2 linked regions of the Homo sapiens genome follow. The protein of the gene in region 1 purifies or fractionates together with the protein of each later gene. This does not show direct contact. Each region holds a gene or a part of one and is shown on either strand. Other genes may lie near its edges.

Evidence for each region. Proteins that work in one complex are often made in the same cells at the same time.
Region 2: the proteins of SRGN (region 1) and SPATS2 purify together in Homo sapiens (affinity purification with mass spectrometry, with the first as the bait; one study listed by BioGRID). This does not show direct contact.

What each region holds. Positions count from the first base shown.
Region 1 is NC_000010.11:69,098,103-69,101,602, reverse strand, and holds part of SRGN (serglycin isoform 1 precursor), read right to left. Parts: intron 1-3,500. UniProt on the Homo sapiens protein: Plays a role in formation of mast cell secretory granules and mediates storage of various compounds in secretory vesicles. Required for storage of some proteases in both connective tissue and mucosal mast cells and for storage of granzyme B in T-lymphocytes.
Region 2 is NC_000012.12:49,499,826-49,503,627, forward strand, and holds part of SPATS2 (spermatogenesis-associated serine-rich protein 2), read left to right. Parts: intron 1-244; coding exon 245-380; intron 381-3,802.

The DNA of each region.
Region 1 (3,500 bases):
AGAGAAGGGCAACCACTGGAGAAGACGCAGAGTCAAAGGAGAGATGTTGCCTAAACATAGGAGATACTAAAGTCCACCCCTATACTGATGGGAAGAAGACACTGAGTTCAGAGAGATAACTGCAGAATGGAAGTCCTGGAGAAGATGCATGGGAAAAGGATACCAGCCACAAAGAGAGGTGGCCTTGGAAGCTGCAACAGCCAGGGTCCAATCAGGAAACTTCTCCAGATATTTAACACAGAGGGAATTCCTCATACAGGTGATGGAGGAGAAGTGAAGCTAAATGGGGGATAGCGAGGTAACCCAGAGATTAGCAATAGCAAGAAAATATTTCCTTCGGCCAGGCACAGTGGCTCATGCCTGTAATCCCAGCACTTTGGGAGGACGAGGCAGGCAGATCATTTGGGGTCAGAAGTTCAAGACCAGCCTGGTCAACATGGCAAAACCCCGTCTCTACCAAAAATACAAAAATTAGCTGGGCATAGTGGCACACCCTGGAGGCTGAGGCAGGAGAATCACTTGAACCCGGGAGGCAGAGGTGGCAGTGAGCTGAGATCGCACCACTGCACTCCAGCCTGGGCAACAAGAGTGAGACTCTGTAAAAAAAAAAAAAAAAAGAAAGAAAGAAAGAAAAAAATACTTCCCTCCTTGGGCTACAGCGATAGTGGAAGGAGGTTGTCTATTTCCTGAGCCCAGGGACTAGAGGCATCTGGTGGGAGCTGAGGCCATGGGCAAAACAGAGTCCTGCCCAAGGTGCCATCCCAGGCAGGGAGTAAGGAGAAGAAACATACCTCTCTCCCTTCCTCCCAAGCTCTCAGTCTCCCGTCCTTGCCTCCCATTGGCCAAAGTCAGCCACAGCCCTGGGAGCCTGAGAAATGCAGACGCCAGGGGTCAGTTCCACCGCCACCCCCACCCCACAGCCAATACAGAGCAGGGCCAGGGAAGGACAGGAGGATCTGAGGGCAAAAGGGTTTGGGATCAGCACAGAAGCAAGGACCATTCTTTCGCAATGACGGGAAAGAAAGCACAGGGTCAGGGTGAGAAGCAGTTACTGGCTTTGGGGAAGGAAAATAGAGATTTGAGAAGAGGAGGAATGGTGTGCAAGAGTTCTTTTGGAGAATTTGAGCTATTCTCTTAACATTTTATTTTATTTTTTAATTTTAGTTTTAATTGTATTTATTTATTTTAAATGTGTTTATTTATTTTGAGACAAGGTTTTAGTCTGTCACCCTGGCTGGAGTGCAGTGCCACACCATGGCTCACTTCAGCCTTGACCTCTCAGGATCAAGCAATCCTCCCACCTCAGCCTTTCGAGTAGCTGGACCACAGGCATGCATGGCTAGTTTTTGTGTCTTTCTATAGAGACGAGGTTTCTCCATGCTTGGCTAATTTTTGTATTTTTCTGTAGAGACAGGATTTCTCCATGTTACCCAGGCAGGTCTCAAAGCAATCTGCCTGCCTTGGCCTCCCAGTCTGCCTGCCTCGGCCTCTCAATAGCTGGGATTACAGGCGTGCCACCATGCCCAGCTAATTTTTGTATTTTTAGTAGAAATGGGTTTCCGCCATGTTGGCCAGGCTGATCTTGAACTCCTGACCTCAAGCTATCCGCCTCGGCCTCCCAAAGTGTTGGGATTACAGGCGTGAGGCACAGCGCCGGGCCACTAATTTTTAGAGATGGGGTCTTGCCGTGTTGCCCAGGCTGGTCTCAAATTCTTGGCCTCAAGTGATTCTCCCACCTCAGTCTCCCAAACTGGGGGGATTACAGGCATGAGCCACTGCAGCCTAACATTTTAGATTTAAATGAATTACTATTGAAACCAATGATTTAAAGTAATGAAGGATGCTGTAATATTACATTCAAACTTAATGCTGAGGCTTTAAAGTAAGAATGCAAGAGTAGGACTACAAAGTTGCATATTGAAGATTGTAATGATGTCATCACTAATGCAGTGAATACCAGTGATGGAGAAAGTCACCAGTGATGGAGAAAGTCACCAGCGCTGGGAATGGTGGCTCATGACTGTAATTCCGGCACTTTGGGAGGCTGAGGTGGGAGGACTGCTTGAGTTTAGGAGTACATGACCAGCCTGGGAAATGTACAGAGACCCCTGTCTCTACAAAAAAAAATTTTTTTAATTAGATGGGCATGGTGCTGTGTGCCTGTGGTCCCGCTACTTGGGAGGCTGAGGCAGGAAGATCACTTGAGGAGTTCGAGGCTGCAGTGAGCTATGATCACACCACTGCACTCCATCCTGGGTGACAGAGGAGACCCTGTCTCAAAAAAAAAAAAAAACAAAAGAGAAAGTTGCCAGGATCCCAAAGTGATGTGAAATGTACCTGGTTTGGAGCATGATGATTAACCCTGGCTTTGAGGAGAGTGATTTTCTAGGTTTGAGCCTGGAGATTAAAACTTTTATGATAATCCTTTTCTTAATATGTATATTTTGCTACATCCTACATAGCTTTAGTATTCATTGAATTAATGGTTTCTAATATAATTCAATTTTTTGTTACTTATGAATTTATATCAGGTCTTTTTTGCAAGTTTAAAGCAAGTTTTATGTGATCAAAAGAAGAGATTTGATTTTTGTTTTACAAGTCTTGGCTAATTATTCTTCCTTTCCCTAATTTTTTTTTTCTTTTTTTGAGACAGAGTCTTACTCTGTTGCCTAGGCTGGAGTGCAATGGCATAAATAGGGTTCACTGCAGGCTCAACATAGGCTCAAGAGATTCTCCTACCTCAGCCTCCCGAGTAGCTGGGACCACAGGTGCACATCACTATGCCTAGCTAATTTTTGTATTTTTTGTAGAGACAGGGTCTTGCTGTATGGCCCAGGCTGGTCCCAAACCTCCTGGGCTCAAGGGATCCTCCCACCTCAGCCTCCCAAGGTGCTGGGATTACAGGCATGAGCCTCTGCACCTGGCCATTTTTAAAAATAATTACCAACTACTTGAAGAACATTTTTTTAATATAAAAAATGTATTTGAAATAGAGATAGGGTCTCACTATGTTGCCCAGGCTGGCCTCAAACTCCTGGGCTCAAACAATCCTCCCGCCTCGGCCTCCCAAAGTGCTGGGATTACAGGCATGAGCCACCACACCTGGCAGAAGAACATTTTAATCACCTCCTCCAAAAAAAACCCTCATACCCATTAGCAGTCACTCCTTATTCCTCCCTTTCCCCAGCCCCTGTAACCCACTAATCTACTTTCTGCCTCTAGGGATTTGCCTATTCTGGACATTTCATCTAAATGGAATCATACAATATGTGGCTTTTGGTGTCTGGCCTTCCTTCACTCTGCATAATGTTTCCAAGGTTTATCTATGTTGTAGCATGTATCAGTACTTCATTCTTTTTATGACCCAATAATATTCCTTTGTATGCTTATACCACATTTTGCTTATCCATTCAGTTAATTATTGGATTTTTATATATAGTGTGTTCTGTTTACACAAATAAAACAATGTTCAATCATTTTCAATACCTGTTGATGAAAAG
Region 2 (3,802 bases), on another chromosome or scaffold:
GTCTTTGTATGTTTTTAGTTGTTTAAGATAGAAGAATAAATCCAATTATTATTATTCCATCTTGACCAGGATCCTTTTTTTTCCAAAAATCTATAAAAACATGTTTTTCTCATTGGGGAAGGTGGTTATTTAGGAAAGATTCTTAGTCTACATGACATTTGGCTTTGGTGTTCAGATCCGACTTTCAAGTTACCTATATAATTATTCTTTTTTTTTTTTTAATATTTCGGTTTTTTTCCCCAAGGTTCCAATATTGAAAAATCTGTAAAAGACCTCCAGCGCTGCACAGTGTCTCTTGCACGGTATCGAGTTGTAGTTAAAGAAGAGATGGATGCCTCCATTAAGAAAATGAAACAAGCCTTTGCTGAATTGGAGAGCTGGTAATTTAAGCTGCATTTGATATCAGTAGCATAAAAATGATCATATATAAATATAAAGATGGTCAGCCATTCCCCAAGTTCATTCATTCATGACTAACTACATAGTAGGAGAGACTTATAAATCCTATGGTATATTTAGCTTTCTGCTTTGTTCTATTTCTCTTGGTCACAGTGTGAGAATGGTACAGATAACTCACAATGCTCTAGAAATGAGCTGGAGTTTAATATTGTTTGGAAAGGGACACATAATTATAGAGTAGATCATATACTTTAAAGTCTCCTTTTAGGCCGGTGCGGTGGCTCAAGCCTGTAATCCCAGTACTTTGGGAGGCCGAGGTGGGCGGATCTTGAGGTCAGGAGATCAAGACCATCCTGGCTAACACGGTGAAAACCCGTCTCTACTAAAAATACAAAAAATTAGCTGGGTGTGGTGGCGCGCGCCTGTAGTCCTAGCTACTCGGGAGGCTGAGGCAGGAGAATGGCGTGAACCCGGGAGGCGGAGCTTGCAGTGAGCCAAGATCTCGCCACTGCACTCCAGGCTGGGCGACAGAGCGAAACTCTGTCTCAAAAAAAGAAAAGAAAAAAAAAAGTCTCCTTTTAAACTAAGATCCTATAACAAATGACATGATGTATGTTTTTGAACAAAATTATAAAGTAGAAAAAATCTGTCTTTGCTTTCCTACCTTCTTCCATCCTTTTTAATTTATGCCACTCCAATAAAGTGCCCTTTTATTAATTATTATTATTATTGTTGTTTTTTGAGACAGGGTCTTACTCTGTCTGTCACCCAGGCTGGAATGCTATGGCACGATCACATCTCACTGTAGCCTCAGCCTCCTGGGCTCCAGCAATCCTCCCACCTCAGCCTCCCAAGTAGCTGGTACTACAGGCATGTACCACCACACCTGGCTCATTTTTTAATTTTTAAATATTTTGTAGAAATGTGGTCTCACTATGTTGCCCAGGCCAGTCTTGAACTACTGGGCTCAAGTGATCTGCCTGAAGCTGGGTAATTTATAGTGAATAGAGATTTATTTTTTACAGTTTTGGAGTCTGAGAAGTTTAAGGTCAAGGGGCCCACATCTTGGCAAGGACCTTGCTGTGTCATTCCATGGCAGATGGCAGAAGGGCAAGGGAGCATGCATGGGAGAGCCAGAGAGGGCCAAACTCAATTTTCTAATGAACCCACTCTCTCAATAACAAAATTAATTCATTTGTGGGACTCTCCCCTCATGACCTAATCATCTCTTAAAGGTCCCACCTCTCACCACTGTAGCACTGAGGATTAAGTTTCCAACACACGAGCTTTGGGGATCACATTCAAACCATAGCAATATTCTAATGTTTCCTGGAACACTGAAGCTGTTTTAACTGTTAGATATTAAGGTGTTAACGGATATTTGTTTTTTTGTTTTGTTTTGTTTGTTTTTTGAGACGGAGTCTCTGTCGCCTAGGCTGGAGTGGAGTGGCCCAATCTTGGCTCACTGCAACCTCCGCCTCCCAGGTTGCAGCCATTCTCCTGCCTCAGCCTCCCGGAGTAGCTGGGACTACAGACATGTGCCACCATGCCTGGCTAATTTTTTGTGTGTTTTTAGTAGAGATGGGGTTTCACCATGTTGGCCAGGCCGGTCTCGAACTCCTGACCTCAGGTGATCTGCCCATCTCTGCCTCCCAAAGTGCTGGGATTACAGGAGTGAGCCACCGTGCCCAGCTGGTGTTAACAGATGTTTAAATTCTAGCTCCTTTGTGGGAGGTATTTTATAAGGGATTTTTTGAAACTAGAAAAGACTTAAGGACCATATTAAAATGACAGGAAGACAAGCAGCTAGGGTGATGTTTTGAGACTTAGAACTTGTTCATTATACTTATTTTTAGTAACTGTCTAGATCTGAAATATGACAGGAAGTGTTCATGAAAAGAACAAACCATACATGCTTTCTTGCTGCCTGTAGACTGTTCCCTCAGGTTATACCTAACTGTGTCTCTGTTCACAAATTTAGTCTAGTCACTTTTGCCACAACATATAAGAGATAGAGGAGAGTGTAGGTCCCCTCAGTCCTCCTGGTCTCTGGAATTGCAGAGGAGTAGTTAATCAAAATGAAATAATGCCTCCAAAAAGTTAAATCATCAGAACCAAAACTTACTTTGGGGCTAGATAATTCATCTTAGTCTACCCATGCCTTGTCCTGAACTCTAAGTTTTACTTTTCAGGTTTTATGGCTAGGAATTTAATGTCATGTCTTCTGTTTTTCTTTGTTTGTTTGAGACAGGGTCTGGCTCTGTCACCCAGGCTGGAGTGCGGTGGCACGGTCATGGCTCACTGCAACCTCCACCTCCTGGGCTCAAGCCATCCTCCCACCCTCAGCCTCCCTAGTCCCCTAGCTGGGACTACAAGCATGTGCCACCACACCTGGCTAATTTTTTAATTTTTTGTAGAGATGAGGTTTCACCATATTGCCCAGGCTGGTCTCCAATTCCTGGGCCCAAGCAATCCTCTCATCTAGGCCTCCCAAAGTGCTGGGATTACAGCCATAAGCCACTGCGCCTGGCTGTCTTCTGTTTTTCTTGACACATATTTTTGCTCCTGCCAGATTACTCATTGTCTCAAAACTTAACATTCACATTTCCTCTTCCATCTACTAGTTAATGCCACTTTCCCAGCCTGAAAATGTTCTCCTATTCCTCTGTATTTATCTAAATCCCACCATTTCTCCAAACTTTCCTTAAATTAAGGTCTAACTTCTGGAAATTATTTTAGGTAACTGATTTTTCCCCTTTCTGAACCTCTAGGAGGAAGCACCATGCCCTTTGCACTGCATTCTTGTCATATAAGATATTGTTGGCTTGTTTAGAAAATAAAGAGCTGGCTGGGCACAGTGGCTCATGCCTGAATCCCAGCACTTTGGGAGGCCAAGGCGGGCAGATCACAAGGTCAAGAGTTCAAGACCAGCTTGGCCAACATGGTGAAACCCCATCTCTACTAAACATTCAAAAATTAGCCGGGCGTGGTGGCGTGCACCTGTAATCCCAGCTACTAGGGAGGCTGAAGCAGGAGAATTGCTTGAACCCAGGAGGTGGAGGTTGCAGTGAGCTGAGATCGCGCCATTGCACTCCAGCCTGGGCGATAGGGCGAGACTCCATCTCAAAAAACAAAGAAAAAAGAGCTGGGCGCGGTGGCTCATGCCTGTAATCCCAGCGCTTTGGGAGGCCGAGGCGGGTGGATCACGAGGTCAGGAGATGGAGACCATCCTGGCTAACAAGGTGAAACCCCGTCTCTACTAAAAATACAAAAAGTTAGCCGGGCGTGGTGGCGGGCGCCTGTAGTCCCAGCTACTCAGGAGGCTGAGGCAGGAGAATGGCGTGATCCCGGGAGGAGGAGCTTGCAGTGAGCCAAGATCGCGCCACTGCACTCCATCCTGGGC